Linked DNA regions of Homo sapiens: region 2 is linked to region 1. The links come from fine-mapping of genetic effects on gene expression. A gene starts in region 1. The other region holds a variant in brackets. All regions are shown on one strand. Distances are from middle to middle.

Evidence for each region. PIP is the estimated chance that this variant, and not a neighbour inherited with it, causes the effect.
Region 2: its variant is the best candidate, but not a certain one, in a credible set for the expression of PROCA1 in sigmoid colon (GTEx, PIP 0.53).

The regions. Positions count from the first base shown.
Region 1 is chr17:28,708,870-28,714,237 of GRCh38, reverse strand. It overlaps PROCA1 (protein interacting with cyclin A1), which reads left to right and starts at 2,350. Exons shown (of 5, transcript NM_001366301.1): 1 at 2,350-2,668. The coding sequence starts at 2,578. RefSeq lists enhancers at 1,496-1,575, 2,134-2,909, 2,910-3,685 and a silencer at 2,616-3,115.
Region 2 is chr17:28,558,194-28,563,561 of GRCh38, reverse strand. It overlaps PIGS (phosphatidylinositol glycan anchor biosynthesis class S), which reads left to right. Exons shown (of 12, transcript NM_033198.4): 5 at 40-131; 6 at 1,933-2,140; 7 at 3,371-3,513; 8 at 4,972-5,086. Among named protein-coding and RNA genes, the nearest start is that of UNC119, 8.3 kb to the right of the region's middle. The variant A/T (reference allele first, on the strand shown) is at 2,592.

The sequences.
Region 1 (5,368 bases):
CATGACTGTGTGGCCATTTTGGCACTAGAGTCCCCTGGGGATGCTGTGCTGGCCATCCCTGGCCCCTGGGCAGGTTCAGGTAGGCTGGGAGCTGAAACATCAGTTTGGGGGCTGCACTGGGCCCTCACTGGGTGAAGTCTGAATGGCTGGCTTTGAGAGCCCTTTCCCCTGATCCTTTCCCCACACGTGTCCTCCTACTTGGTGCTTATACCCAAATTTTCACCACTGGAGAATCTTTTTCTTTTTTTCACCCTTTTCTTGCCTTCCCTTTAAGAAGTACTTTTCCAGGCAGGGTGCGGTGGCTCGTGCCTGTAATCTCAGCACTTTGGGAGGCCAAGGCAGGCAGATCACTTGGATTCAGGAGTTCGAGACCAGCCTGGCCAACATGGTGAAACCCGCGTCACCATTAAAATCCAAAAATTAGGCCGGGCGCGGTGGCTCATGCCTGTAATCCCAGCACTTTGGGAGGCTGAGGCGGGCGGATCACGAGGTCAGGAGATAGAGACCATCCTGGCTAACATGGTGAAACTAAAAATGCAAAAAATTAGCCAGGCGTGGTGGCTGGTGCCTGTAGTCCCAGCTACTTGGGAGGCTGAGGCAGGAGAATGGCCTGAACCTGGCAGGCGGAGCTTGCAGTGAGCCGAGATGGCACCACTGCACTCCAGCCTGGGTGACAGAGCGAGACTCTGTCTCATAAAAAAAAATAAATAAAATAAAATACAAAAATTAGCCGGGCGTGGTGGTGCATGCCTGTAACTCCAGCTACTTGGGAGGATGAGGCAGGAGAATTGCTTGAACTCAGGAGTTATAACCATTAACTTTTCTTTCTTTTTTTTTTTTGTTTGTTTTTTTGGTTGTTTATGCCATTAACTTTTATAAGAAAGAAAGGTGACCAAGACCCTGGCTCCCTGTTGACATCTAACCCAGAGTTCCAGAGTAGCTGGAAGCACCTCAGACATCTGGGTCAACAAAGGAGGACTTATGGCCTCGTGTCATCCTGGGAGGCTAAGGGGGTGTCCAAGTTAGAAGGCAGATTCTGGCTCCCAGTTGCCAAGTGCTCTGTCTGTTCCATTCCTGGTTCCATTCTCACCAGGATGGTTGGTTTTTCTGCACACTTCCCTTCTCCTGGCTTCCCCTCCCTCGCAGTTCCTAGACTCTCTAGAGCTACCACGGGAAGGAGGGTCTGGGCAGCAGCCCTACCCACTCCGGACTTGGGTCTGGAGGAAAGTGAAGGTGGGGATCAGGCAGAGCAATAGTAGCAGCAGCAGAGCCCCTGGATGATGGTGGAGAAAACAAGGTGTGGACCCCATCCTTTCTCCTCCTCTTCATCCTGGCTTTGGAAGCTGGTGCCAAGAGAAATGGAGGGGTGTGGTGCATGGAATGTCGTCGATATGGCCATAACTTCTTTTCACACTCTCCTGTGATTGTTTTTTCCATTTCTGTTCCCTCGCAGCACTGGGCTCCTCACCCTTGCCTTGCCTGTTAACAGATGTGTGTGAAGCCAGCACCACAGTCCAGGTGTGGTGTTTGTGCTGCACCGGGTGTGGGAGTTCTGTGTTCCGTGTGCATGTTGTATTAGTCTGTGTGTGGTGAGTATATTCTGTGTGTGTGTGATATATGCATGCGCAGAGTGTGTATGTTGTACCTGAGGGCGTGAGGGGTGTCACTGGGATGAGGTTCCTATGAATGCAGCCTGCCCTGTTCTCCAGATTGTCTATCAGGATAAGCTTACGACTCTCTATTGGGCAGTATTGTCTCTAGAATAGGGTGTCCCCTGGGGGCCAGGGGCGGGAACGCTGCGGGGTGGCGCAGGGGCTGGGAGCCGACATCAGGTCCTCAGCCCGGAGTTAGGTCTTCGGAGAGGCCTGTGGGCGGAGAAAGGGGAAGCCCGGGCTCCACCAGAGGCGGAGGGACCTCGAAGCCCGGAAGGTGGAGGGGAAATGGCGACGCCAGGACCTCCCTGGGCTCAGGGGATCCTCCCATCTCAGCCTCCCGAGTAGCTGGGACTACAAGTGCGCACCACTAAACTAGCTAATTTTTGTATTTTTTGTAGAGATGGGGTTCGCTCTCTCGCCAGCGGGCAGAGGCGGGGCTGCGGCTGGGTTCCCAAGGGTCGGTGGGGCGGGGAGCGGGACGGGAGTGTGCGGTTTAGAGAATGGCCGGGGCGGGGCTAAGAATGGGGCTGGGGGCAAGGCTCGTTGTAACACTAAGAATTGGGGCTACGATCTGGAGGCAGGGTGAAAATCTGGGGTTTGGACTGCAAGCTGGAACCAGAGATGGGTGGTGAGAGCTGGGCCTGTAAGGTTAAGGTCTGAGATAAAGAGGGGCCTGGGAGGCGCCGGAGGCCCCGGATGAAGAACGCGGCTGACGCTGAGACCCAGCTGGGAAGACTACGCAGCCTGGAGCCGGGCTGGGGAGGCCGGCGGGGGCTGCGCCAGCATGAGGCGGGGTTAGGGGCTAGGCGGGGGCGAAGCCGAGACTGGAGTTCACGGCTGGGCCGAGGGCTCGGCCGGGCTGAGGCTCAGGGTTGGACTTCACGCAAGAGTCCTGTAGAGACGAAGACCTGGGCGGAGAGCGATGTGGGTCAGGACGACGCTCACAATTGAAAGATGGACTAAGGAAAAGACCGAGCCCAAGGCCCGCTCGTGGGATGAGAGCAGATGCCGCGGTAAGAGGGGCGGGGCAGGGGCTGGGCAGAGGGCGCGGCCCGGCTCGCAGACCCCGAGCGGCGCACGCGGGAAGCCGGCAAACCGACGAGGGAGACGGGCAAACCAACGAGAGAGGCGGGGCCCAGTGCTGGGCCGGGGCGGAGCTAGGGCCGGGGCGGAGCTAGGGCCGGGGGCGGGCTCGCGTCGAGCCGCGGGCCAATGATTGAGGACTGGGGTCCTGAGGCCCTGCTGGGTCGCCCGCGGGATGGGCGGGAAGTCTGGTTCCAGCCAGAGCTGGAACGCTCGGCTATCGGACTGGGTGGCACCGGGCGCAGGCCGCTGCCCTTGAAGCGCCGGCCTTGGCTGGAGCCCGTGGACCAGCGCCCACCCGGACGCCGGGGCGGGAGCGGGCGGTTCCATCGACCCTGAGGGTGGACCAAGGAGACTGAGGGTTCCACCCGTGGCATCACAATTACCTCCGCGGCGGCGAGGCCAGAGAGGCATTTCCAAGGAGACGCGGGCGCACTGCCCCTCCCTTGCTTCCTCCTCTTCCCTCCTTCCTCTCCTAGTTTCTTCCCTCCCTTCCCGCCCTACTCCTTCCCTCCCTTCCCACCCTACTCCTTTCGGCTGCTCTGGTGCCCACCCCCAGTGCCTCGAGGTCGAGGAGAGCTCCTCGGCCCCGCAGGACGGGGAGGATTCTGTACAGATGAGCATAACTTGTGAGTTTTGAGTTAGGCCTTTGTGCGCCGATTAACGCCTCACGGGGAAAGACGCCATAAGCCTCCCACTTTCTTTCACCCTATCACCCTCCTCATTCATTGTGTGTGTTGTCAGTCACTCCTGCTGCAGGAACTCTGGACTGCTGCTGGTCAGAGGTCTCCTCCTGTCCTCTGGAACTAAAGAGCAGATTGCTTTTCTCAGCTCTGAAGAGAGTTACTAAATTCGTCTCCCCCTTTGTCCTTCCTCCCCTCGTCTCCTTCACAAACAGAGCTGATGGGTGTCCGAGCTCTGGGGGAGCTAGTGAGTGGAGAGTAAACAGGCTCTGACCCTGCATGTGTGCTTTTTTTTTTTTTTTTTTTTTTTGAGATGGAATCTCGCTCTGTCGCCCAGGCTGGAGTGCAGTGGCGCAATATCGGCTCACTGCAAACTCCACCTCCCGGGTTCAAACAATTCTCCTGCCTCAGCCTCCTGAGTAGCTGGGATTACAGGCGCGCGCCACCACGCCCAGCTATTTTTTTTATTTTTTTTTATTTTTAGTAGAGACGGGGTTTCACCATGTTGGTCAGGCTGGTCTTGAACTCCTGACCTCGTGATCCGCCCACCTCGGCCTCCCAAAGTACTGGGATTACAGGCATGAGCCACCGCGCCTGGCCATGTGTGTCTCTTTCATGGTGGCTCCTGAAACAGCAAGGCAGAGGAGTTTTGGTTCCTCACCCTGGCTGAGGTCCCAGCGGCATGACTTTAGGGTCCAGGGTGGATAAGGGAGGCTGTGGAGTCCAGATTGAGTAAAACCAGAGGGTGAGGAATTGGTAGTGTTGGAGCTGAAAAGCAGGTGCAGTAGGAAGTGACTGTGCCTCAAAAAAACACCTGTCCTTCCCGCCGTCTCACTCTGCTGCCCACACTGGAGTGCAGTAGCACGATATCGGCTCACTGCAACCTACACTTCTGGGGTTCAAGCGATTCTCATGCCTTGGCCTCCAGAGCAGCTGGGACTACAGGTATGTGCCACCATGCCTGGCCGATTTTTGGATTTTTATTAGAGAAGGGATTTCACCATGTTGACCATGCTGGTCTCAAACTCCGGACCTCAAGTGATCCGCCCACCTCGGCCTCTCAAAATTCTGAGATTACAGGCATGAGCCACTGCACCCGGCCTGGTAGGACAGGTTTTGCATATGGAGCTGAACGTGATTTATTTTATAAGACAGAATCTCACTCTGTCGCCCAGGCTGGAGTGCTGTGGCTCTCTCAGCTCACTGCAACCTCTGCCTCGCCGGCTCACTCAAGCAGAATGTGGTTTTAAGGCTTGGCTATGGGCCGGGTGCGGTGGCTCACGCCTGTAATCCCAGCACTTTGGGAGGCTGAGGCGGGCGGATCACGAGGTCAGGAGATCAAGACCATCCTGGCTAACACGGTGAAACCCCGTCTCTACTAAAAATACATAAAATTAGCCGGGCATGGTGGTGGGCGTCTGTAGTCCCAGCTCCTCGGGAGGCTGAGGCAGGAGAATGGCGTGAACCCGGGAGGCGGAGCTTGCAGTGAGCCAAGATCCCGCCACTGCACTCCAGCCTGGGCGACACAGCCAGACTCTCTCAAAAGAAAAACAAAACAAAACAAAAAAAAAGGCTTGGCTGTGGAGCTTCACATACAGAATGACCTTTGTTTACAGGGGTGTGTCCCCAGCCAACAGTAAGTAGACAGGGCTGAAAGAGCATAGGCTATGGAACCAGGAAGACCTGGGTTTGAATCCTACTTCTACAGTCTATTAACAATGTATGTTTGGACAAATTACTTATCCTCTCTGAGTTTCTGTGTTCTCATCCATAGAATGGGGCTGTGGTGGGGATTTAGAATCAAAGGCATATATTTTAGTTGAGACAGGGTCTCACTCTGTTGCCCAGGCTGGAATGCAGTGGCGTGATCACGGCTCACTGCGGCCTCGATCTCCCTGGGCTCAGGTAATCCTCCCACCTCAGCCTCCTGAGTAGCTGGGACTACAG
Region 2 (5,368 bases), 150 kb after region 1:
GTGTTTTGCTCTTGGTGTACCACCTGTTCTTGCCCCCAGAGGCAGAAGCCATGTTAGATGAGCCTCAGGAACAAGCGGAGGGCTCCCTGACTGTGTACGTGATATCTGAACACTCCTCACTTCTTCCCCAGGTAAGGTAACAGAGAGGCTGCGACTTTGCCTTATCCCTTCAGCTCGTGGACTCCTGGGTCACCTCCTTCTTGCATCATTGCTACCCATTTCTTCCATTTGCTACAGAAAACTCTCCAAAAAAAAATTTTTTTTTTTTTGAGACGGAGTCTTGCTCTGTTGCCTAGGCTGGAGTACAGTGGCGGGATCTCGGCTCACTGCAGCCTCCGCCTCCCGGGTTCAAGTGATTCTCCTGCCTCAACCTCCTGAATACCTGGGATTACAGGCATGTGCCATGTAATGTATTTTTAGTAGAAATGGGGTTTCACCACGTTGGTCAGGCTGGTCTCGAACTCCTGACCTTGTGATCTACCTGCCTTGGCCCCCCAGAGTGCTGAGATTACAGGCGTGAGCCACCGCACCCGTCCTCCACATATTTTTAATAAAGAATGCTGGCTGGGTCTGGTGGCTCACACTGTAATCCCAGCACTTTGGGAGGCCGAGGCGGGCAGTTTGCTTGAACTCAGGGGTTCAAGACCAGCCTGGGCAACATGGCAAAACCCCATCTCTACAAAAAATAAAAAAAATTAGCTGGATGTGGTAGTCCCTGTTACTTTTGGAGGCTGAGGCAGGGGGAGCGCTTGAGCCTGGGAGGTGGAGGTTGCAGTGAGCTAATATCATGCCATTGCACTCCCCATCTCTACTAACAATACAAGAATCGGCCGGGTGCGGTGGCACATGCCTGTAATCCCAGCACTTTGGGAGGCCGAGGCAGGCGGATCACTTGAGGTCAGGAGTTTGAGACCAGCCTGGTCAACATGGTGAAACCCCATTTCTACTAAAAATACAAAAATTAGCCGGGCGTGGTGGTGGGTGCCTGTAGTCCCAGCTACTCGAGAGGCTGAGGCAGGAGAATCACTTGAACCCAGGAGGTGGAGGTTGCAATGAGCCAAGATAGTGCCACTGCACTCCAGCCTGGGCGACAGAGTGAGACTCTGTCTCAAAAAGAAAATTTATAATCAAATATTTAATTTTTATAAAAGCACTAAAGAAAATGTTAATGAACGTCCCCATCCCCACCCCCAGCTCACAAACTGCAGTGCAGTAGCACGGTGTGTACTTCCATGGTTATACTCCATTCCCTTTTGGCCCAAGGCAACCAGATTTTGTGTTTGTAATTTTCTTGCTTTTCCTTAGAGTTTGATCACATATGCTGTATCTCTGTAAACAATGTATTTAATTTTACATTTTTGAATTTATATAAATGGTGGCTTATAACACATGTTCCTCTGCCACTTTTATTTTATTCCCTTCATGTGGCAGAGCCTGGTGAGAGAATCATCCATAATTATGTAGTTGAATCTATGTATCATTGTATAAACATAAACATAATTTACCCATTCTATTGCTAATGGACATTTGGATTATTTCTAGGTTTTACTGTTAGAAATAATGCTATTATGAATACTTGTTTCTTTGCCATGTGCCATTTTTATATCAGACTCTCCAGTTGTCTGTTTATTCCGCTTTTCTTGCTCAGCATGCCATCTCTGAGTTTCCATTTCACCATTTTACCAGCCCCTGAAGAGTTAGATGCTGCCTGGACCCATGTCAACTGGGAAAAAGAAGAGAACGGAGACAAATGAAAATACTCAATATATACTCATAGCTCAGAAATGCTGAGTTAATAGCTCATGAATCTCAAGAGAGGTGCAAACCTGTTGGTCATTGGCAAAGGGGCAGATTCGGAACAGTAGGAGCCAGGGTGCTTTTTGGCTTTCTTTTCTGAGCCATGGGCATTCTGTCTCTTGCTCACCCCCACAGGACATGATGAGCTACATTGGGCCCAAGAGGACAGCAGTGGTGCGGGGGATAATGCACCGGGAGGCCTTTAACATCATTGGCCGCCGCATAGTCCAGGTGGCCCAGGCCATGTCTTTGACTGAGGATGTGCTTGCTGCTGCTCTGGCTGACCACCTTCCAGAGGACAAGTGGAGCGCTGAGAAGAGGCGGCCTCTCAAGTCCAGCTTGGGTAGGGCACCAGGCTCTGCCACATGAAGGGAGAGGAAATGAATTACATGGGGCAGGAGGGAAATCTGCATGCCAACTTCTTTCTCCTTTCTTCTCTAGTCTCAATTTTTTTCTTATTTATTTTATGTTATTATTATTATTATTATTTTTTTTAGTTATTTATTTTGAGACGGAGTCTCACTCTGTTGCCTGGGCTGAGTGCAGTGGCACTATCTCGGCTCACTGCAAGCTCCGCCTCCCGGGTTCACGCCATTCTCCTGCCTCAGCCTCCCAAGTAGCTGGGACCACAGGTGCCCGCCACCACTCCTGGCTAATTTTTTTGTATTTTTAGTAGAGACGGGGTTTCACTGTGTTAGCCAGGATGGTCTCGATCTCCTGACCTCGTGATCTGCCCGCCTCGGCTTCCCAAAGTGCTGGGATTACAAGTGTGAGCCACCACACCTGGCCTATTT[A/T]TTTTATTTTATTTTTTGAGACAGAGTCTTGCTCTGTTGCCCAGACTGGAGTGCAGTGGCGTGATCTTGGCTCACCACAACCTCTGCTTCCCACGTTCAAGTGATTCTCACTCCTCAGTTTCCTGAGTAGGATTACAGGTGCATGCCACCATGTCTGGCTAATTCTTGTATTTTTATTTTTATTTTATTTTTTTTTGAGACGGAGCCTCCTGTCGTCCAGGCTGGAGTGCAGTGACGTGATCTTGTCTCACTGCAACCTCCGCATCCCAGGTTCAAGCGATTCCCCTGCCCCAGCCTCCTGAATAGTTGGGATTACAGGCGCCCACCACCATGCCTAGCTAATTTTTGTATTTTTAGTAGAGACGGGGTTTCACCATGTTGACCAGGCTGGTCTTGAAATCCCAACCTCAAATGATCTGCCTGCCTCGGCCTCCCAAAGTGCTGGGATTACAGCGTGAGCCACCACACCCGGCCGATATTTGTATTTTCAGTAGAGATGGGGTTTCTCCATGATGGCCAGGCTGGTCTTGAAGTGCTGGCCTCAAGTGATCCGTCTGCCTCAGTCTCCCAAAGTGCTGGGATTACAGACATGAGCCACAGCGCCCGGCAGCTTTTTCTTACTCAGTGTTCCTCATCCCAGTTTTGTCCTCCTTTTGGTTCCATGATGGAAAGCAGCCCCATTCCAGAGGAGAAACAAGTTCAGCTCAGCTGGGAGTACAGGCTGCCCCTCTTCTTTGATCCACAAGAGCCTCTGACTTCCCTGACTCCTGTTTCTGTAGGCTATGAGATCACCTTCAGTTTACTCAACCCAGACCCCAAGTCCCATGATGTCTACTGGGACATTGAGGGGGCTGTCCGGCGCTATGTGCAACCTTTCCTGAATGCCCTCGGTGCCGCTGGCAACTTCTCTGTGGACTCTCAGGTGAGACCGGGAGCAAGTTGAGGAGTCCTTTTCAATGTCTATACATATTTACAAGTGCAGTCTGTTCCTCCATCTCTTAGAGCTTGCTGATTTGCTAGGAATTTCCTGTGTGTATATGTATGTGAGTGTCATAAGGGTGGGTACTGGGGGTGCGTGTGTGCCCTTGTCTGTGTCCATCCATCCATTGAGGGCAGATTCTGGTGTCTTTACTTCCTTGGCATCCTATTGAGAGAGTTTGTCAGTGCTTGTTAACAAACCACCTTCCTATAGCTCCCTCTAGACCTGTACTCACCAATTGTGCTTAGATGTTAATGCCATGACCCATCTTTTTTTTTTTTTTTTTTTTTTTGAGACAGAGTCTTGTTCTATTACCAGGCTGGAGTGCAGTGGTGTGATCCCAGCTCACTGCAACCTCCGCCTCCCAGGTTCAAGCGATTCTCCTGACTCAGCCTCCTGAGTAGCTGGGATTACAGGTGCGTGCCACCATGCCCAGCTGATTTTTGTATTTTAGTAGAGACGGGTTTTCACCACATTGGCCAGGATGGTCTTGATCTTTGCCCAGCTGATTTTTGTATTTTAGTAGAGATGGGGTTTCACCACGTTGGCCAGGATGGTCTCGATCTTTTGACCTCGTGATCCACCTGCCTTGGCCTCCCAAAGTGCTGGGATTACAGGTGTGAGTGATGGAGCCCAGCAGAGCCATTCTTAAGGAATTTAGTTTTTAGAAAAATGCTTCCTGAAATTTGTTATTGTAGTAACAATAAAGATGTGAAGGGCCAGGTGCGGCGGCTCACGCCTGTAATCCCAGCACTTTGGGAGGCTGAGGCAGGCGGATCACGAGGTTAGGAGATCAAGACCATCCTGGCCAACATGGTGAAACCCCATCTCTACAAAGATAAAAATTAGCTGGGCATGGTGGCGCGTACCTTTAGTCCCAGCTACTCGGGAGGCTGAGGCAGGAGAATTGCTTGAACCCGGGAGGTGGAGTTTGCAGTGAGCCAAGATTGTGCCACTGCACTCCAGCCTGGCAACAGAGTGAGACTCCATCTCAAAAAAAAAAGATGTGAAGAATGTAGCTTTCTGTATCACGCTGTCTCCTTGTAGGGAAAACACGTGGGAGAAATTTTTATCAGGTCTTCCTAGTGGGAGTAATTGCTTCTGAATAACTGGCTTGATTTGATCTTGTAGACACTGAATTATGCTGTTCTTTGTTTCTCTCTTTGTGTAGACTGTTAGGAAACCTGGTAAAATACGTGATTTTTAAAGCACGTATTTAGTTTATTCAGTTTACCCTTGGCTTTGCTATTTTCTTCTGCAATTATTTTCTCTCAGCCCTGATTTTGTCTCTTATATGTTGCCTTGTCCTGATTGTGTCTTTTTTAAGGCACCTCAAATCTTTTTTGGGAGAAAGTAGAATATAAATCTAAACAAAGTAACCACTCCCTGTTTGCTCTACAGATTCTTTACTATGCAATGTTGGGGGTGAATCCCCGCTTTGACTCAGCTTCCTCCAGCTACTATTTGGACATGCACAGCCTCCCCCATGTCATCAACCCAGTGGAGTCCCGGCTGGGTGAGCACCTAAGGATGAGGGTCTTTCTTTTCTGCCAGGCTAGGGAGGGACCCTGACGGCTCAGCTGGGTAGGGGACAGGAGTTGGAGGTGGATTATATACAGTGATGGTTCCCAGGTTGGGTTGGTCCGAGGAGACTGTGGAGATTGAGGCTCCTTTTTTTCTTTTTTTGAGACAAGGCCTTGCTCTGTTGCCCAGTCTAAAGTGCAGTGGCACAGTCATAGCTCACTGCAGCCTCCAACTCCTGGACTCAAGTGGTCTTCCCACCTCAGCCTCTCGAGTA